Linked DNA regions of Homo sapiens. The protein of the gene in region 1 interacts with the protein of each later gene in a pairwise test. Each region holds a gene or a part of one and is shown on either strand. Other genes may lie near its edges.

What was found. Proteins that work in one complex are often made in the same cells at the same time.
Region 2: the proteins of LSM1 (region 1) and BEX5 interact in binary tests that used the Homo sapiens proteins (3 or more experiments, as listed by UniProt).
Region 3: the proteins of LSM1 (region 1) and APBB1 interact in binary tests that used the Homo sapiens proteins (3 or more experiments, as listed by UniProt).

What each region holds. Positions count from the first base shown.
Region 1 is NC_000008.11:38,173,491-38,181,280, forward strand, and holds the start of LSM1 (U6 snRNA-associated Sm-like protein LSm1), read right to left. Parts: upstream 3,004-7,790; 5' UTR 2,831-3,003; coding exon 2,785-2,830; intron 1-2,784. Other genes in the region: BAG4 (BAG family molecular chaperone regulator 4), read left to right, coding at 3,380-3,649. UniProt on the Homo sapiens protein: Plays a role in the degradation of histone mRNAs, the only eukaryotic mRNAs that are not polyadenylated. Probably also part of an LSm subunits-containing complex involved in the general process of mRNA degradation.
Region 2 is NC_000023.11:102,153,188-102,160,149, forward strand, and holds BEX5 (protein BEX5), read right to left. Parts: upstream 2,791-6,962; 5' UTR 2,672-2,790; intron 2,604-2,671; exon of another isoform or gene 2,406-2,603; intron 1,624-2,405; 5' UTR 1,557-1,623; intron 1,116-1,556; 5' UTR 1,079-1,115; coding exon 743-1,078; 3' UTR 525-742; downstream 1-524.
Region 3 is NC_000011.10:6,409,071-6,416,094, forward strand, and holds part of APBB1 (amyloid beta precursor protein binding family B member 1), read right to left. Parts: intron 2,292-7,024; 5' UTR 2,278-2,291; coding exon 1,557-2,277; intron 1-1,556. UniProt on the Homo sapiens protein: Transcription coregulator that can have both coactivator and corepressor functions. Adapter protein that forms a transcriptionally active complex with the gamma-secretase-derived amyloid precursor protein (APP) intracellular domain.

The sequences.
Region 1 (7,790 bases):
TACTGGGCGCAGGCTGCATCTGGATTTGACTTCATAGGGAACAAGAAAACATTAAGTGATGGAGTCTGTTTACTGAGTTTGTATAAGTGGGTATGTGTGAGAGGGTGGGGTGCTGAAGATGTGAGGTAAAGATGTAGGAGTTTTATGAGACATCACAAAACTATTTACCAAGAGTTGGGAATAAAAGCAGCAAGCTCAGGGTGAAGGTTATTAGCTCTTTGTGATTCTAAAGTGCTATCAGGACACTTAATAGAAACACACGCAGATAGTTGGAAACAGTAAGACTGGAAAACCAAAGACATCAAGATTAGAGAAAGCAATTTTGGATAAATCTACAAAGAGGTGATATAAAAAACTAAAGTACAGGAGATCTACTAAAGATTTAAAGAAGTAGGCCACATGTAATCCAAGTGACCATCTATTTTGGAGAACAGTAAGAGCCAGAGAAGTAAGAAAATCACCAAGTACCAGTTGTTAGAGAAATCAAGAGAAGAGAATTAAAGAATCTGGTGGGGAGAGTATCACAGTGCTGCAAAGGGGAGAGAACACAGAAGAAGACCTTAGACGAATAACTTTGAAGAATGCAGCTTGAGTAATTTCAGGATAAAAATTAGATTGCAGGAGTAATGTAAGTAGTCTATTGAAGGTGATCAAGAAACAGACAAAATGAAAATGACTCGAGGTTTGGGGATAAAGATATGAAAAAAGGGATGGGCATATGAAGAGAACGGAGAAAATATTTGAGATGGATAGACAGTAACACATGAGGGGAAGAACGCAGGGGTTGGGGAGACAGAGGATATAAAAGAAAAAGGCTAACAACGAAAAAAGGTTCCAGAAGCAGTGAGAGGAGACAGTAACAACAGACAGACAAAAAGGGAGGAATCCTTCCTACTCAAATTAAAGGATGGGTGAAAATACAGAAACACAAGGAGGAAACTGTGTGTTAGGGTTGGGGAGCAAAGGGTGCATATCAAATGGCTTCAAAGTTTTCATAAAGTAGGGGGTCTGGAATCTACAAAGAGGTAGGGGTTAGAGGACCAAAGAGCAAAACTGATTTTTAGTAAAATGGCAGGATGTGTTAGAGGATATATAAGGAGAGATGAGGGCAAAAGAGCATCCTCGAGCAACTAAAACATCCTGTTACACGTAACAGGTTCATATAGATGTTAATATATATTTAGTCCAATTACACTACATTTCCCTTACATAGCACAATAAGTAATTTGTGTTTAAAAAAATGATCTGTCGGCCGGAGGCGGTGGCTCACGCCTGTAATCCCAGTACTCTGGGAGGCCGAGGTGGGTGGATCACCTGAGGTCAGGAGTTGGAGACCAGACTGCCCAGCATGGCGAAACCTCGTCTCTACCAAAAAATGCAAAAATTAGCTGGGCGTGCTGGCAGGCGCCTGTAATCCCAGTTACTTGGGAGGCTGAGGCACAAGAATTGTTTAAACCCGGGAGGTGGAGGTTCCAGTGAGTCGAGATCGCGCCACTGCACACTACAGCCTGGGCGACAGAGCAAGACTCTGTCTCAAAAAAAAAAAAAAAAAAAGAAAAGAAAAGAAAAAAGATCTGTCAACCATAAAATGATTTTTTTTTTTTTTTTGAGACGGAGTCTTGCTCTGTCGCTCAGGCTGGAGTGCAATGGTGCGATCTCGGCTCACTGCAACCTTCTCCTCCCGGGTTCAAGCGATTCTCCCGCCTCAGCCTCCCGAGTAGCTGGGATTACAGGCACCGCCATAGTGCCCAGCTAATTGTAGGAACGGGGTTTCACCATGTTGGCTAGGCTGGTCTTGAACTCCCGACCTCAGGCGATCTGCCCGCCTCGGCCCCCCAAAGTGCTGGGATTACAGGCGTGAGCCACCGCGCCAGGCCCGTAAAATGAAATTTTAACCATAGATTCTAAATTGCGTATTCACAGAGTAACTGAGACGATTGCAACTTATTTAAAACTATGTGTAAATCATCTTGAAACAAGTTAATGAGAAAGATCACATGATTAAAACAATAAAAAATGTTGCTTGAGGAATAATGCACAGACGGAATTTAGAAAAAAGGAAAGCCAGAACAACTGCAGACGGTTCTTTTCGCTTTTGTATAGGACTGAGCTCCTCTTCCGGACAAAAACCAGGAATAAGGGAGGTCTTCTTAGTAAAAGCAAAAGTAAATTGTCTTAAAAAAAAAAAAAAGGTTGCAAGTGATTTGGTCTTTCCAGAAAAGTCAATACCATGTCTAACAGTGGTCTCTACTACAATAACCTGAAGGTGCTAATGACCCTCACAGTAAAATAAGCTAGCAAATGGCCACACCGTAGAGCGCCTACATTTACTGCCAATTAAGTCCAACTGCCGCTGTCTTAATATTTTCGCTTTTTAATGAATCCTCTCTCTAGGTATTCCGATCCATCCACCGGTAACACGCTGATACTTCGAAATACTGCAGGCAGGAGTGGACGGGGGAGAAGCCCCCCCCCTCCCCGGGCTTCTTTCGTGTTCGGGCCTCTGCTGCCGCGATCCACGGAAGCAAGAATGAGTTCCATCGCTTGGGGCTCACCAGCTAGAGGGCTGGCGGAGGCTGCGAGGGGCAGAAGTAGCAGCAGGCTACTGGGTGGGCAAGCGGTGTGTACCGCAGCTGTGGAGGACATCGACGCGGAACGCCCGGATTGAGCTCAGAACACACCGGCCCCGCCCGGGACTCATTCTACAAGCTTCTTCGGAAGAGGCGCCCGCCCGGGAGGAAGGGTCTAACCCCGGGCTCCACCGGGAGGAGATAAACTACTCACTGTCAATGTCCTCGATGAGGCTGGCGGTGCCAGGCATATAGTTCATTTTGAACTGAAATAATGCTGCAATGCACAGCGGCGGGAGGCCAGCGCGTCCAAAACCTCTTCCCTCCTACCGCAGTCGCCGCCTCGGTGGGACCAAGCCCGGAATCCCGACCGAGACCAGCACTTCTGCCCCGGCTTTCAGCCGCCGGGGGCTGCCGGAAGCTCCTCCATATTACCCTTACCCACTTCCTGTAACACGTGTGGGCCCCCAGGAAGAGGCGGGGCAGCCGTACCGTTGGGGGACACCCTTTCCCTGTTCCTGTTAAGTAGGTAAGAGGAAACTCCATTGGATAAATGGCGAGGAAACGTATACTCCCTCTTAAGGAACACGGTGTCTTCCTTCGTCTCCGGGTTCCCGAGACCCCAGAGTCACTGACCTCCGTCCCTCAGCTTTCGGGGTTCGGCAGCAGAAGGGGCGGGCCCGGGCCTGGGATTGGCTGGCGTCGTCCGACCCCCTTCGCTGCTCTCCATTCGCAATCGCCCGCGGGCGCCTGCGCGATGGGTCGGCCGTGGGGAGCGGGGCGGGAAGCGCTTCAGGGCAGCGGATCCCATGTCGGCCCTGAGGCGCTCGGGCTACGGCCCCAGTGACGGTCCGTCCTACGGCCGCTACTACGGGCCTGGGGGTGGAGATGTGCCGGTACACCCACCTCCACCCTTATATCCTCTTCGCCCTGAACCTCCCCAGCCTCCCATTTCCTGGCGGGTGCGCGGGGGCGGCCCGGCGGAGACCACCTGGCTGGGAGAAGGCGGAGGAGGCGATGGCTACTATCCCTCGGGAGGCGCCTGGCCAGAGCCTGGTCGAGCCGGAGGAAGCCACCAGGTAAGCTTTGCACCCTCTGTCCTTGCGGGGAGGTGAGGGCCCTTGGGGCTGGGGTTCGTAAAGGATCGGGTTTCATACTTGTTTTCCTTATGTGGAGGAGGGTGTGTTGCGGGGGGTGTTGGAGAGACCGAGACTAAGATCAGAGGTTGGGGGGACATGCTTGTGTTCCCTTTGCCCCTCCTTTTCTGCTTCGACCCCAAAAAATATGTTTATTACCATTTAAAAAAGAAAGATCCTGCGCGGACTTACTAAGCTTAGCAGCAGGCTGCAGATCTCTCTCCTGGGAGCGGTGCTGGGTAGGGGTGGCACGGATCTACTGCTCCAGCTCTAGCAATTTATCCTGCGTGGCTGGCAGGCCGGCTCTCCCGGGGAAGGGAAGTGGCTGCAGCCCCCGATGCCGCTCAGGGACCCTCCCGAGGGGAAGGAACCTTTGCGAGGAGGAGGGATCTGGGCATTTAGCTGTTTGCCCCTAATGCCTTGCCTGAGATCGAATCATGAATAATCAGTGTTGTAAAGTACCTTTACGCGGATTGACTGATTTAATTTTCACGGCGACTGCAAGGTAAAATGGCATTACAGCGGCCCTTTTTTTTGTTTTCGAATAAGGAACCGGGGCTCTGCGAGGTTAACTCACTTGCCTAATACACTTGGACCTGCAACATTTTATTCTCCGTTTTCCTGCCGGACATATACTTCTGCTTTGTTAATACAGTCTTCTGGGTAGTGGGTTGTCGTTCTGCGGTGGCAGCATACCTCTCTGTTCGTTCAAGAATTATCCTCATTTGTTGAAAATGTAATAGTGAAATTCTCGTACATTGCTGGTGGGGATGTAAAATGGTGGAAAATAGTTTGGTAGTTCCTCAAAACATTAAGCATTAGAATTAGTCTATGACCCAGCAAGCCCACTCCTGGCTATATACCCAAGAAAACTGATAACGTATGTTCACATAAAGCTTGTCCGCCCATGTTCATAGCATCATTATTCATAATCGCCAAAAAGTAGAAATGTCGTTTTTTTTGTTTTTTTTTTTTTTGAGTTGGAGTCTCGCTCTGTTGCCCAGGCTGGAGTGCAGTGGTGCCATCTCGGCTCACTGCAACCTCCGCCTCCCGGTTTAAGCGATTCTCCTGCCTCAGCCTCTCGAGTAGCTAGGATTACAGGCGCCGGCCATCACACCCGGCTAATTTTTGTATTTTTAGTACAGACGGGGTTTCGCCATGTTGGCCAGGATGGTCTTGAACTCCTGACCTCAAGTGATCCCCCTTTCCCCTGCCCCTCGGCCTCCCGAAGTGTTGGGATTACAGGCGTGAGCCACTGCGCTCGGCCCCAAATGTCATTTTATTATTTGAGTTATAAAGTGAGTGAACCTCTTGGAGCCCTGGTTCTTTATTCGAATACAGGAATGTTGTAAGGACATAACGACTGATGCATCGATAAACAAAATATGGTGTTAATATATTCATTCAATGGAGTATTATTTGGCCTTAGAAAGGAATGAACTGCTGATGCATGCTACAATATGAATGAACCTTGAAAACATCACACTACGTGAGCTAAGTCAGTCAGAAAGACTGCATATTGTGTGATTCCATTTATATGAAATGGCCAGAGTAGGTAAATCTAGAGACAGAAAGCTTAATGGTTGCCAGAGGTTGGGGGACTGGCGGTGTAGGTGAGAATATTCTTTTTGGGATAATGAAATGTTCTAAAATCAGGGCCTGGTGAGATGGCTCACACCTGTAATCCCAGCACTTTGAGTTGCCGAGGCTGGAGGATTGCTTGAGTCCAGGAGTTCGAGACCAGCCTGGGCAACATAGTAAGACCTTGTCTCTAAAAATAAAAAAATAAAAAACAAAAAATAAGAAATGTTCTAAAATCAGTGGTGATGGTTGCACAACTCTGAATATACTAAAAACTACTGAATTGTACATTTTAAAAGGGTAGAGTTTATAGTATGTTGATTATATCACAGTGTAAACAATTGTATGAGAAAAACATGGAGCAGTGATAAATTATTTTTTATTTTTATTTTTTATTTTTGGGACACAGTCTTGCTCTGTCGCCCAGGCTGGAATGCAGTGGCGCAATCTCAGCTCACTGCAACCTCTGCCTCCCGGGGTCAAAGTCTCCTGCTTCAGCCTTCCTAGTAGCTGGGATTACAGGCGCCTGCCACCATGCCCAACTAAATTTTGTATTTTAAGTAGAGACGGGGTTTTGTCGTGTGGGCCAGGTTGGTCTTGAACTCCTGATCTCAGGGTATCCTCCTGCCTCGGCCTCCAAAAGTGCTGGGATTACAGGTGTGAGCCACAGTGCCCGGCCAAGATTAATTATAAATTAAAGAAAGATCCAGCTGGGTGTGGTGACATGCCTGTAATCCCAGCACTTTGGGAGTCCAAGGAAGGCGGATCACCTGAGGTCAGGAGTTCGAGACCAGCCTGGCCCACATGGCAAAACCCCGTCTCTACTAAAAATACAAAAATTAGCTGGGCATGGTGGCGGGCGCCTGTAATCCCAGCTATTCGAGAGGCTGAGGCAGGAGAATCGCTTGAACCCAGGAGGCGGAGGTTGCAGTGAGCTGAGATCACACCATTCCACTCTAGCCTGGGAGACAAGAGCGAAACTCCATCTCAAAAAAAAAAATAAAGAAAGAAAGATCCATATTTTCTCAGCCTAAATCTGGAATACATAGGTCATGGGACTATAGAATGGTGAAATGCTTGGCCAAATTAGACCAAAAATCAGTTGAAGTGGGGAAAGAGGAGAGGACCTCTAAACTGATGACTGACTTTTGCTGGGCCTGCTGTATTATCAAAACCAAAGTCTGTTTTCTGGCATAGAGTTAGGGAGGGTTGGATAGACTAAAGAAGTTAAGATTTTAGCATTGTGTAAGGGGTTGTCAGGTGTGGTTTGAGTACATTTGTGCCCACAGGGTGGGTGATGGTGCTGAAGTAGTTGGAGATAAAGGTGGAAATGTGTAATGGGCATTTGTAAACCATTTTAATAGTTTGTACTATCTTTCAGATTGATGATTCTGAAACTTTAAAAGTATAGGATGGTAATTTTTCTGCAGCAATAGAAAACTCATACCAAAGATATGTATGTTGGCCGGGCGTGGTGGCTCACGCCTGTAAACCCAGCACTTTGGGAGGCTGAGGCAGGTGGATCACCTGAGGTCAGGAGTTCGAGACCAGCCTGGTCAACATGGCGAAACCCCACCTCCACTAAAAACACAAAAATTAGCCAGGCATGGTGGCGCATGCCTGTAATCCCAGCTACTAGGGGCACTGAGGCAGGAGGATCATTTGAACCCGGGAGGCAGAAGTTGCAGTGAGCCGAGATCATGCCACTGCACCCCAGCCTGGGCAGCAAAGCGAGACTCCGTCTCAAAAAAAAAAAAAAAAAAAAAAAAAAGATATGCATGTTGTCACAGATGTTGCAATGTTTTTTCCAGATTTGTTATTTTGACTTTTTTTTATGTTTTGCATTTTTATAGTATACATCTGTCAAATTAAAAAAACAAACAGTATAGGAACCTTTTATAACCTTGCTACTCAAAAAGTGTGGTCCATGGACTAGAAGCCTCGGTGTCACTTGTGAGGTTGATAGAAATGCAAAATCTCTCCTCTTCCAGACTTACTGCTGCAATTTATTAAGATCCCCAGGTGATTCATATGCACATTAATATTTCAGAAGCATTGCTCTATAGAACTGATTATATTTAGATGATGTACTGAACTACAACACAGACTTGACTATATTAACACATTTAAGTATGGCAGGGAAAAAATTAGAAATCTATCACTATTTTTTTTTTTTTTTTTGAGACCGAGTTTCACTCTGTTACCCAGGCTGGAGTGCGGTGGCCTGATCTCGGCTCACCGCAAGCTCCGCCTCTTGGGTTCACGCCCTTCTCCTGCCTCAGCCTCCCGAGTAGCTGGGATTACAGGCACCCGCCACCACGCCCGGCCAATTTTTTTGTATTTTTAGTAGAGACGGAGTTTCACCGTGTCAGCCAGGATGGTATCGATCTCCTGACCTCGTGATCCGCCCGCCTTGGCTGGGATTACAGGCGTGAGCCACCGCGCCCAGCCTTTTTTTTTTTAAATTTTTTTTTGAGACGGAGTTTTGCTCTTTTTGCCCAGG
Region 2 (6,962 bases), on another chromosome or scaffold:
GAATCTTCCCTAAATATGAAGGGCACTTAGAGGGCTGGAGCCTTGCATGTATAAATAGAGCAAGACACAGAGCTCAGTCATCACCTCATTTGATTCCCACAGCAGCCGTCTAAGGCATTTATAATGTAACGTACCTGTAATTATCAGGTACATGTTTCTAAATGAGAGATCCATAGGTAATATAAGATTTATATGTCTTTAAACTGTGTTTCAAGTGTTTATTAATTGCCCCCATTTCCTATATAAGTTGATTGGCAAGTTCCTTGCTTCTTACTTTTTTTTTCCCTGAAACATAGGAAACACATGTATTCATTTTGGAAAAGTGAGAAAAAGTGGATAACCAAGAAAAAAATAAAGAAATTTAAAAGTACCAGTAACTATACAACATAGAAAAAGCACATTCTGGTTTTCATTCATTCATATATATATATATATATATATATATATATATATATATATATTTCATATATATTATATATAGTGTGCATACGTACACATCTAAATGAAATAGTCTATCTGTAGACTGCTTTTAAATTGCTTTATTAACTTTACAGTATGCAATAAACATCTTTCCATGAAAGTTGATGAAAGTCCTCTTCTGACAGAAAAACTTACAGACTAGGTCAAAATGCAATCTCCAATCAGAAAATTGCAGAAGAATGCCAAAAGGTTCACATTAAAGGTACACCAGGAAAAATGCGAATTTAGAAAGCAGGGATTTTATGATTATTAACCTCAAGATTCAAGGCATAAGGCAAAACTCATCATGATGATCATGGTGAGGAGGGTCCCCTATAAGAATGCGCAGACTGTACCTCAACTGAAGTTCCCTAATTTTCCTCCTTAGCTCTCTCATCTCCTCCATGAACCGTTCCATATCATCTCCATCTCCATCTATCATATCAATGTTATCGACAAGCCTATTGGGCACATCCTCTCCAAAACCCGGGGCAGGTGGAGCCCAAACCCCTTTAACATTTCCTCCAGGCTCCTGGTATTCACCACCTCCTAAAGCGGGGGCTTCATTCTGCACTGGGGCCTTCTCCACAACTTTGTTTTCCTTGGGGACATTTTCCATGTTGAGTTTTTTTCCTGTTTTTTTTTTTTTTTTCTTCCTAGAAGATAAAAAGCAAGAAGAGGGAATGAATGCTTGATAGGATTCAGAGCTCTGTTTGGCAAAGGTTTTCCCACCTGAGAAACTTTATGAACCCTGTAGGGGGCGCCCCAGACCCAGCGCTGCCCCAAAGCCCATCATTTTCCCTGAAAATCCCTTCCCCAGGCCACTCCTACCGCCAAAATGCAAGACGACTTAGCGGAGGGGGACGATCATAGAGAGACCAGACTTCACCTCCCTGGGATCCTAATAAGCTCTCCAGGAGCGCCCCAGATCTCGCCCCTCTACTCCCTTCTTCCCTCATCAGATACAGGCTGTCATTTTATGAAGACTCTCCTAAGTTTCTCCTGCACTCAACTCGGGCAGGAAGGGCTGTGAGTCACCCAGATTCTGCTCTGATCCTTGATACCCCTACACCAGAGGGCCCCAGGCAACCTCCTACCTTCAGGGATCAGAGGCAGTCTTTCTCTCTTAGCCTTGAAATCGGCTGCACAAACGCACTTAAAGACCTGCAGACAAATGTGACAATTACCAGGACTGATCTTTTAATCAAAGGACCGGTAATGGGAGTTGATTTAGGGTTCTCCTAGTATTAGCACCTTCTGTTTCTCCTCCATCCTGTCTCACGGCTTCTTTTCCCACCCTGTGACAGGCTATCCCACCTTCCAGAAATAGGCATCAAAGATGATTATTTCCAAAACGTTTTAACCTCTTCTTTAGGCGCCCATCTCTACTGTTTCCTCTTACCTGTCATCTAGTTACCCTTTCTGCAACGCAGGCAACTTGCCTGGCGGGGGAGTTAGAAGAGCTTGCTGAATGAATACGTAGTTTATTCACAAAGAATTTCAATCTAGATATCCATCAGGCCCTCTCTCCACCCGATCCCCACTCCCATGCCCACCATTTTATGCATCAAGATGGACGATGAGTGAAGAGGTATGTGGGCATTGAAAACTAGGACCTGCTGCGGTCTCTGCGCTTTGTCATTCTCACTCCAGGATCTACAGGTAGCGCCCACGCTTACACCGACCGACCTGCTGAGACCAAAAACAGTTTCTCGCTCCTCGCCTCTGTCCCTCAGTCAGAAGCTCGCCCGCTCAACTGCCGCAATAGGGACCTGCTTTCCAGACCTAATCTCTGTCCCCCTCCTCTGCAGCAATTCCTCTCCTCGGCCCCCGCAGCCTATCATTTCCAGCTCTAAATGGGTAGAGGGTGAAGAAAAGATACCTAGAAGGCAGGCCTAAAACCTTGGCAGGGTCCGCCCTCCCCAACCCTTGGTTGCCGGCTGTACCTCCCTCCCGCGGACCTGCAGGAAGCAGGCTGTTTCCTTTCAGTCTCCTCCACCGGCTGGACTCCATCAGACATTGCCCGATGGCCGGCCTCCTAGGAGATCTCAAATGGTACCCATTCTCAATCCAGCCCCCTCGGGAGATCCTCTCCCCAACCGCTCCATTTCTCGCACTAAACGGGTGTGTATCTGGAAAGGGTGTGTATCCAGTCCTAGACCCGCTCTGGTCTTTGCCCTCTGCTGCTCACACACCGGTCAGCGCCACCTACCTGCCAGGGCTCAGGGGTCAGCTTCTACCACTTTCCACCTTTCCTGGGCAGCTGGCTCGCCTGCCTTCAGGGCAACAGCGAGCCGTCACACGGCCAGCGACAACTACCAGACTGCAACTAGGAGGAGGGACTAATCCACGCATTGGCTCTGGGTCTCCTAAGGGTCACGTCACTGTGAGCTCAGATTTCCAATTACCATTCACACCCGCAGTGCGGCAGGAGGGTGGGGGCGGGACTGTGGGCGGGGCCACCTTTCTCTTCATTCGTGCTTTCTCCACCACTACCACAGGCTACTATCCACCCCTCTATTTTTTTATTTAGCGATCCCCACGACCAAACGGGTCATAATATTTTGTATTTGGCTTGCTCTGGTTTCTGCTGGAGCTTTTAAAAAATCGCTTCTTCCTCTTCTATACACCTAAACGCACACTTCTCTCCCCTTCACGTCCAGCAAGTAAAGCCCTAACAGTCTTGTAGGGCTTGGTCCCAGATTGGAACCCGGAGAAGGGGTGGGGAGCGAGAGGCTAGGAAGTCTGGAAAATAGGCAGGAAGTGGTATTCAAATTTTTTTTTCACTTCAACTACTTTCCTTTTTGTTTGTTTATTTGGGAAGGGGGTTCCTTTTATTTTTCATCAGCATGCATTCATTTTGTTGTTGTTTTTATAACTAGACAATACAATTATTTTCAGTTGAAAAAACAGGATTCGAGTTGTAAAAACATGGCAATCTGTTTCTCCTGCTGAATCATATTATAAATATAAACCTTCCAGAAAGCATTCCCCTGCCTCCTTTAAGGACTTTGAAATAAGGCCGGGAGCGGTGGCTCGTGCCTGTGATCCTAGCACTTTGGGAGGCCGAGGTGGGTGGATCACGGGGTCAGTAGTTCAAGACCAGCCTGGCCAAGATGGTGAAACCCCGTCTCTACTAAAAATACAAAAAGTAGCTGGGCGTGGTGGCAGGCGCCTGTAATCCCAGCTACTCGGGAGGCTGAGGCAGGAGAATTGCTTGAACCTGGGCGGCAGAGGTTGTAGTGAGCCGAGGTAGCACCATTGCACACCAAGCCTGGGCGATAGAGTGAGACTCTGTCAAGAAAGAAAGAAGGAAAGAAAGAAAGAAGGAAAGAAAGAAAGAAAGAGAAAGAAAGGAAGAAGAAAAGAAAAGAAAAGAGGAAGGAAAGAAGGAAAGAAGTGATTTTCTCGTGAAGGATCTCTACATGTCCTTCCGTGAAATGATGCATTGAGTCTAATAGAGCCTCTCTGGTGGATTTTCATGTCTTGAGAACCTGTGACAAACTGATGATCTCCTCTAAATTGTATTAGTGTAACCACAATTTACAATAACACCTAGCCCTGATGATTCAGGACAATAATTTGGGGAAGCTACCCTGACAGATGAAAATGTATTGTGATGGACACATAGAGGGGAACAACACTGGGGCCTACAGGAGGGTGGAGGATGGGAGGAGGGAGAGGATCAGTTTACCTATATAACAAAGCTGCACATGTATTCCTGAACTTAAAATAAAAGTTTAAAAAGTATTGTGAAATTACAATGTTAAGATAATAGTGTACCAGAATAAATTTAGAACAAATGAACCAGAAAAGAAATTCAATTATCAAACCCAAATATGGAAAAAATGCTAGTAAATGCATTGAAATATTTTGAATCAGTGGGGAAAGGTTAGATTGAAGAAATTGTATCGGGATAATTGACTATTTTCAAAAACAATGAAGTGCCTTATCATTCTCATACACTTAAAAATAGACACTAAATGTTTGCATAAAAGACATTAAACCATTAAAAATAGAACTTAGCATGTTATTTTTTATATAATAGAATGGAAAAGTTGTTTTAAATACAGCACCAGATCCTGACAAGACCAAAAGGCAACTGGCTCAAATCTGCTGGGGACCCTCCAAGTCTCAGAAATGATTTAGAGTGCTCCTCAGAATTATCCTAACTAGTGATGAGAAGTTGGGGTATTTTTCTACAGACTTGGCCCTCTATTGGTGGATGTCACGCTGAGGATGTTAAAATCTCTGGCACTTTTAAGTTGTCCTACACCTGGGCTGAGCAAGTTCCCAAGGTACCAGAAAAAGCCCTCAGCAAAATTAGAAAACACAGGTAAGGTAGAAGGATAATATCAGTTTTATCCCCGCTACAGGAAATATACTATTCACATTTTACTCTAAATCAGTCCAAATATCTCCCTTCAAAAACAAAGATAATACACACATATTCATTTTCTTCTTCTTCTTCTTCTTCTTCTTCTTCTTCTTCTTCTTCTTCTTCTTCTTATTATTATTATTATTATTATTATTATTATTATTATTATTATACTTTAAGTTCTGGGATACATGCGCAGAATATGCAGGTTTGTTACATAAGTATACATGTGCCATGGAGTGATTTGCCGCACCCATCAACTCATCATCTACATTAGGTATTTCTCCTAATGCTATCCCTTCCCTTGCCCCCCCACCCCCAGACAGGCCCCAGTGTGTGATGTTCCCCTCTCTGTGCCCATATGTTCTCATTGTTCAACTCCCACTTATGAGTGAGAACATGTGGTGTTTGTTTTTCTGTTCCTGTGTTAGTTTGCTGAGAATGATGGTTTCCAGCTTCATCCATGTCCCTGCAAAGGACATGAACTCATCTTTTATATAGCTGCATAGTATTCCATGGTGTATATGTGCCACATTTTCTTTATCCAGTCTATCATTGATGGGCATTGGGTTGGTCCCAAGTCTTTGCTATTGTACACACATATTCATTTTCATATTTATAGATGTTTGGGTTGTTTGTAGTGTTCATTATCATAGATGATGTTGATTGAACTTCTGTGTACATAAAATTTTCATACTAATATCAAATTTTGAAATTTCTAGAACAGTCGTTTCTATATATGTGTGGATATTTTTCAGTGTCATAGAAGTCAATCCTGAAAAATGTCCAAATTTGGTATCTATAATGTATGAGAATTCCTGCTTTTTCATGTCTGCCAATGCTTAATATTGCCTGGCGTATTAATCGTTTTCACACTGCTGATAAAGACATACCTGAAACTGGTCAATTTACAAAAGAAAGAGATTTATTGGACTTACTTTCATGGGGCTGGGGAGGCCTTGCAATCATGGTGGAAGATGAAAGGCAAGGAGAAGCAAGTCACGTCTTACACGGATGGTGGCAGGCAAAGAGAGAGCCTGTGCAGAGAACTCTCGTTTTTAAAACCATCATATCTCATGATTCTCATTCCCTATCATGAGAACAGCGCAGAAGAGACCCACTCCCGTAATTCAATCGCCTCCCACTGGGTTCCACATGGGAATTGTGGGAGTTACAATTCAAGATGAGATTTGGGTGGGGACACAGCCAAACCATATCACCTGGTTTATTTTTTTTAACTATTATTGTATTTTATTTTTTCTTTTGTTTAATTTTTTATTTAAATACACTTCTCAAGGTCACCAGGTAATGTTTTCTAAACTTAACACATCATAAGAAGCACTTGGGGTTAAGATTTTTAGGCTCTTTCTCTAAAGATCCTAGTTTAATAGATTAGAGTCAGGTGTGAAAACCTGCATTTAAGAAGCTCCTTTGACATAATTTTTAATATCAGATAGAGTTGGGAAACCCTGTCACAGTTAAAAAACAAAATGAAACAAAGAAAAAAGATCTCCCATCATTATGTAAGTGATCTTTTTTTAAAAAAATTATTATGAAATAATTTCAAACTTATAGAATGTTTTTGAGAAAAACCCCACATGCCCTTCACTGCATTTCCCAGTTCTCAGTTTTGCTATATTTGCTTTCTCATTCTCCCTTCATATTGAAGAATACATTATTATTTTTTTCTGAACCATTTGAAAATCAATTGAAGACCAAATGGTCATTTAAAAATATTTAGTGCAATTGAGTCCATATTATTATATCATTAATTAATATAAACTGAAAAAACTGAAGTAATCACAAATGGTGGAGCAGCCATACATCAGGAATTTTTAGCTCAGTTAAAAATTTATAAGATAATCTGGCGCCATGAAAATGCACCACTTAGATCTCCTGCTGTGGGAAGTATTGTTGATTGATGGTTCTAGTTGCTGACCCTCTGAATCCACTAGCACATTCATGCTGAGGTCATGAATCCCATGGGCTGATCCTTGCCAATAACTAGCACTATTCAGTTGCATTTCTGTAAGTTACAGGGCTTCTGTAATTGAAGTCTTTGGCTCCACAGCTCCCCTTCAGCCTAGCTGAAACCTTAGGATTATGTGACAGTCTAGGGCTCTTC
Region 3 (7,024 bases), on another chromosome or scaffold:
CTGTTGTTGTTGTTGTTGAGAAAGGGTCTCTCTCTGCCATCCAGGCTGGAATGCAGTGGCTCAATCATGGCTCACTGTAGTCTCGACTTTCTTGGGTTCGGATGATCCTCTCAGGTCAGTCACCTGAGTAGCTGAGACCACAGTGGCTGATGCCTCCACTCCCGGCTAATTTTTTTGTCTTTTTTATAGAGGAGAGGTTTTGCCATGTTGCTCAGACTGGTCTTGAACTCTTGGGCTCAAGCAATCTACCCATTTTAGCCTTCTAAAATGCTGGGATTACAGGTGTGAGCCACTGCACCCAGCTGTAAACATTTATAGATAAAAGTATTTGCTTCAGAATAACCTACGCTGGGCCTAGGAACGGAAGAGAGCATGCAGGTAGCAAGATTAGTTATGTATTGATAATTGGTAAAACTGGCTCGTGGGTAAATCAGGCTCATTATTCTTTTCTCTCTATTTTTGTGTATGTTTGAAAATGTCCAGAATGAGTTTTTCGAAAGGGGATGGTGTGCAGCCCTAGGCTCATCTGAACTGCATGTTCTCCACAAAGATTGCACAGTTTGGGGTATGGGTATTGTGTCCGCCACCTGGTAAGGATAGGGGTCTTTCCTAATCTTTCTTAGACCTCCATCTACAAAACTCCAGGGTTTTGGTTGTAACTATAGCCCATTATCTCCACTCTTTGTTCCTCAGCTTTTCCTGTATTCGCTACACGACATTAGAAAATGTGGAGACTCAGCTTAATTTAAATGGACATATTTAATGATTAAGCCCTGGAGTCCTAGTATCTATTCTCCTCCCCCTACCCAAAGGGTTTTCTTTTCTAACTTTTAGTCAATATCCTACTCCTGACAAAACTGTATCCTTGCAATGGTGCTGGAGCATGTGGATTATAAGCACACAACATTCCCAGTCTTTCCAAACAGACCTCTGTGGGGAGCTGCTGGCTGCTCCCAACAGGCGTGACCTGTTAAAACGGGGCAGACTGGCGACAGAGTGAGACTCTGTCTCAAAAAAAAAAAAAACGGGGCCGACTGTCCCAAGTGCACCTGAGTGCATTGTGCTCTATGCATTGGCGGCAGCATAACACGGGGCCAAGAGCTCAGGCCTGGACTGAGACCTGGTTTAGATTTCAGCTCTATTGTAATCTCAGCCTGTCTGTGGTCTCGAGAAAGCTACTAAACCTCTCTGGATCTCTTTTTTGTTATCTGTAATATGGGAATCATCATAATATTTACCTCACAGCTTTATTGTAAGGATAAAGCCTGAAAATGCTGAGCAGAGGGCCAGTTACCTAGTCAGTGCCCAGTAAACTAGTCCACTTATCAACCATGGTGGCATGCATAATGAATAGATCCATCCATCCGGGCATGCATGATGGTCAGATCTACCAGAATGTCCAAGCACTCTCTGAATGAAAAAGCCTGGACATGGCCTGCTGTGGCCTCAGGGTATGGGCTCTCAGCTCACATCAGGCTGGCACTGGCCTCTGTATGAGAGTCCTAACCTCTGCCCTCACACCCTCCCACATGCCCATGTCAAGCTCCACAAGGTACCTGTGTCCTCTGGGGAGCCATAGGAGGGGCTGCCCTGGGATAAGGTAGCCCAGCTTGAGTCCTCATCACTGGCTGCACTGTTCCGCATGCCAAACAGGAGGCTGGCACTCTTGCTGTGTTCCCGGGGGCCATCTGTAAGGGCTTGGGGCCTGGGAGGGGCCTCCACACTCTCCAGGGGCTCAGGCAGCCCTGGGGGAGAAGATAAGTCCTCCTCCTCCTCTTCATCATCATCATCCTCCTCCTCCTCCTCGGCCTCCCCGGCCGCCTTCTCCTCTCCCTCATCTGGCCCCTGCTCTTGAGTGCTGATGATCAGGCCAGGTCCTCGTAGGCCTCGGTTGGCTGCGTTGTGAGCTGAGAGCTCCAGCTCAGAGTACAGGTGTATCAGGCCTTTGGGGCCCAAGGGTGCCATCTCAGGCTCCTGGCTGGCCTCCTCCGCCAAGGTCAAGGTCACATTGCGATTCTGGTCACGGTGGGCCGTGGCGGCCCGCCGGAGCTGGTTCTGGCCCTCTTTTAGCCACTTGGCATTGGCAGGGCCTGGCTCAGGCCCACCACCCTCCCCCATGGCGCTGCGCAGGTCCTTGGGTCCCACAGCTGTGGCCTGCAGCTTGGCGTTGAGCAGCTGGTTGTGGGCAGCGTGCAGAGGCAGGGGTAGGCTCAGTGCGGGGCCTCCGTGGCTGTTGGCATTAATGGCCGACTGGCTCAGTGATGATGGAACAGACATGGCCTTGGCAGCTCCTGTGGGGTGCGGAGGGGAGATGCTGTTGAGCCTCTGGTCCAGAACAGCAGCATCACTGCTTCTGCCCCAGGGCTATGCCCTGTGCCTCCTCATCTCCCTGCACTAAGCAGGCTAGCACCCATGGCTCTCTATCCTATGAGAATGACTGGGTTCAACTTCTGTCCCAGCACTATCATCCCCATCACAGTCCAGGCCCAGGTCTGAGGCCCACCCCATCCCTATATCCCCTGCCCTGAGCTTTCTGGGATGGCACAGCTGGCGCCTGCCCTCGGTCCCACCAGCAAGGCCTCCACACAATGGCTCTCTGTGCCTCCCCACCCCCCAGCTCATCCACCCGGGGCTTACTGTGCCAGGAACACCACTAGAGTGGGACCGGCTCGTGTGTTTTGGACACTGATCACTGACTGCCCCTCTCCGGCCGCACTTCCATCCCAAGCCCCATCACTGTAAGCTCCTCCGGCTGTGTTCCTATTCCCATAAATCACTCAGCTCAACCAGCCCCCAAGCCCACCCCATACTAGGGACTGTGAGGACAGGAGCAAATAAGCTGCAGAACCAGCCCTACAGGGCATGGCACTGGAAGGCAGGTCACAGAGGGAGGGCGCTCGGCTGCAATTCATGGCTTCTCTGGCCAGATGAAGCTACATCTTGGTGACAATTTCCATGAAGTAGCTCCCCTTGGGCACTGGTCCCTCTGCCAGCCCTCATAATGCCCTGTCCTGGATCACTATGGGAGCCTTTCCCCTGGGCCCCTCAGCCTTTCAGATCTTTGTTTTTTGGGGGTTGTTTGTCTGTTTGTTTGTTTTTGAGACAGAATCTTGCTCTTGTTGCCCAGGCTGGAGTGCAATGGCACAATCTTGGCTCACTGCAACCTCTGCCTCTCGGGTTCAAGTGATTCTCCTGCCTCAGCCTCCTGAGTAGCTGTGATTACAGGTGCCCACCACCACGCCCAGGTAATTTTTGTATTTTTAGTAGAGACGGGGCTTCACCATGTTGGTCAGGCTGATCTCAAACTCCTGACCTCGTGATCCGCCCACTTCGGCCTCCCAAAGTGCTGGGATTACAGGCATGAGCCACTGCGTCCGGCCCAGCCTTTCAGATCTTTGACCAAATGTCACAGCCTCAGTGAAGCCTTCCCTGAACACCCATTTTAAAACCACAGGCTACCTCCGCCCCTCCTCAGCAATCCCTAAACTCTTCCCCAGCGCCTGTCACCATCTGACAAGCCAATTTATTATTTACTTTGTCTAATGATTGTCTCCTCATGACTATAATTTATAATTTCCATGTTGGTGAGGATTTTGCCTTTTTGGTTAAATACAGTATGCCTAGTGCCTAGCGTAGTCCTGGCACAGAGCAGGAACTCCATTAATATTTGCTGAATGAATGTATGAATCAGTCCCCATTTCCTCCAGGCTTCGCTTTGGCATCTCCTCTGCCAGTGTCAGAAAACACTTTGGTTACGTTACTATGCCTTATGGTGCCCCAAACAAACTCCACCTGCCTCTCAGGTAAGAGGACGTCCTGTTCCGCAAGGACAGCTCCCCCTCCAGACCCCTCCCTCTGCCTCCTCACAGCCCTTCGTGGGTCAGTTTCTCCGCAACCATTTGAGTCCCAACTATCCTTCCAGCCCGCCACCCAGGGACCCACCCTCGGCCCCATTCCATCCTCCCCACTCTCCCTGACCTTCCAGTTGCTCTGCTGCTCTCCTTCCCGGACCCCCAAGAGAAAGTGCTCTCTCCCTGGACCCTCACCAGCCCCCGATTTCAGTTATTTCTCCCTGACCAACCACTGCCCACTTCTCTCTCATCCTGAGCCCTCCATGCAAGCCCTCCTTCAGACAGCCCCTACCACATTACTCTCTCCTCCCTCGATGGCCTCACTGATTCTCTTGCCCTACCCGACCCTTCCCCCAACAGACAATTCTCCCTCACTGACCATCCCAACAAACACTGCACTGTGCTCTTTCTCATTCCCACTGTACAGACCTTTCTCCTTGATGTCTTATCTGAGAGTTCCCTATCTCCCTGTTCCTCTACTAAGGAGTTCTTTCTTTCCCTGACTCACCACTACCCCCCTTCCCTCTGTGTTCTCAGCGCTGAGCACAGGTCTTGCAGCTACCTGAGCAGGGCTTGCCCATCTCTCCAGGTGCGGTGCGCCCAGGCTGGAGTGCAATGGCACGATCTCAGCTCACTGCAACCTCCTGCAGCCTCCTGAGTAGCTGGGATTATAGGTGCCCACCACCACGCCCAGCTAATTTTTGTAATTCTTTTTTTTTTTTTCTTTTAAGTAGAGATAGGGTTTCACCATGTTGGCCAGGCTGGTCTCAAACTCCTGACCTCAGGTGATCCACCCGCCTCAGCCTCCCAAAGTGCTGGGATTACAGGCGTGAGCCACCGCGCCCGGCCCCATAGCTCACCTTTCTACGTCTCTAGTTCCTCAGACACTAGTGCTATGCTACCCACACATCTGTAAGATGAAAAAGGTTTCTGCGCACGTGTCTGCCTCACGTGGGGCTGTTGATCTGCTCAGTGTGACTCCTCCTGGCCAATGAGAAAACTCACAGCCACTGGAATAAATGAAGAAAAAAATAGCTCTACCTCCTCCCAGAACCACAGTAATCTTCCAAAAATGGAAACCAGATTGTGTCACTCCCTGGTTCAGAAAATGAGAGGGCTCACCACTGCCTTTCGGATAACGCCTGCACTCGTTCGCAGACACCCAAGAGCCCTCTTAAGCCGGCCTCTATAACCTGTCAGTCCCCTCCCCACCTCCCGCCTCCTTTATACCTTATACTCTAGCCACATGAAGCGTGGCGGATTCTGAAACATGTCGCACACTCTTAAAGCCCTGGGTCTTTGTTTATACTGCTCCCTCGGCCTGGAATTCTGTCTCCCCTTGTGAGAACCTCTGCTTGTATTTCAAAACTAACCTCAGCAGTTACAGCTCCTAAGCAGTCTTTCCTGTTCTCTCCCCACCATCAAGTGACTGTTCTCTCCTTCGTGTCTCACAACACCCAGAACCACATTCTATCAGAATATCTGAGACGGTGTCTTATTCAATTTCACATTCCCATTACCAAAGAGAGTGTGCCGTGTGCCGACACAGACTGGGCTGTTGCAGAAGGAAAGGACGGATGAACGGGACAGACACAGGGGGTGGGAGGATCCAGGAAGCTCAGAACTGGCTGGGAATAAATACCAAGAAAGGCTGTGTGGCCCAATGGGCTGGGGAGGAGCAAAGGGAGTGTTTGGGAGGGTGTCAGAGAATGCCAAAGGGTCCCTGAGTGGGAAGTAAGATGGGACAGGAATCCTGGAGAGGTGAGGGCTGAGATCTAGGAAAAGGGAGCGAGGGAGGTAGCTTAAACCAACATCTTGGCACAGACACTGTTCAAGAGTGGCATCTCCATGGGTGTCAGGAAGCAGAAGACTCCACGACTCTGCCATGCTCAGAGGACCTTAAGGATGGCAAACCCTTCTCTGAAGCAGTAGTGTACAGAGCCAGGTTTCTCAAAGGTCAGGCAGAGACCAACCTCCTAGGCACTAGGAGATATGATCTGAGAAGAGTGCATGCACTGTGAGGCTGAAACAGTGAAGAGCCAAGTTGACCTCAGGGCAGCCCCGCCAATCTGGTCACCAGGGCAGGAAGTATTAGAGGAAGAATGGTGAAACTGTTTAAGTGCTGAAGCCTGAGCATCTAGCCTGAGGTGGTGTGGTCACCAACACCCCACTGCTCGAGGTCAAAAAGATGATCTCAGTCCAATTTTTTAAAGAAGGAACACAACCTAATCTCTCCCCTCTCATTGGAGTTACCAAAGGATGCAAAGAGCCAACTGGGTTCTGGCTCAAGGCAGGGAGTTGGGCAGGGGCCTCGGGGCAGGAAGTGAAAGAAGTAGTCACTAAGCCTGAAGATCCTGGCATCAGACCACAGGGGTTGGGGTTGAGTCTTGCTCAAAGTCAGGAGTTGTCTAATCTGACAGCTTCCCATATGCCAGGCACTGTGCTAGACACAGGGGAGAGTGATGAAGACAAAAGAAATGGTTCTTCCTCTGGAGGAGTTCTCAGTTCAGCGGGAAACAGTCATTGAACAACTTGTTACAATGCAGTGTAACACCAACATCTAGAACAGTGCCTGGCACCCATAGCATTCCCTATTTGTTGACTGAATATCATGAAGGAGGAAGAGGAGGGCATTACAGGAACCTGGGGCTTACTACAGCCAAGACATCAGCAAAGGCCTGCCTGAGACTAGGACATAACTCTCCATTGGCCACCCGTCTCAGAGGCTGATCTCCCCTCCTGATTCACAGAGGAAAGGGAAGCCATCCAACTGGGTAACATCCTCAAACATAAAAACCTAACCAAACTTCAGCACCTATCCCTTTCTCTCCTTCCCAAAACCAACTGCTTCACCTATGATTTGGATTCTTCCTATGATGCCTTTCCAGGAATTTTATACCACTGTTTATCTATTTTCTCCTCTATATGATCAACCTCTCCTTCTCAATAGGATCCACGGTCTCCCAACTTGACCTGACGCTCCTCCAGATCCACTCACTGCTCTCTTTCCTCCCCCATACAGGCAAACTTCCTGAGAGAGTTGTCTCCACTCACTGTTGCCACTTCCTCACCTCCCACTCACTCCTCAACCCTTTCCAAACCTGCTTCCACTCCCAACACGACTCAGTAACAGCTCCTACCAAGGTCAACATGACCCCTGTGTCATTCAATCC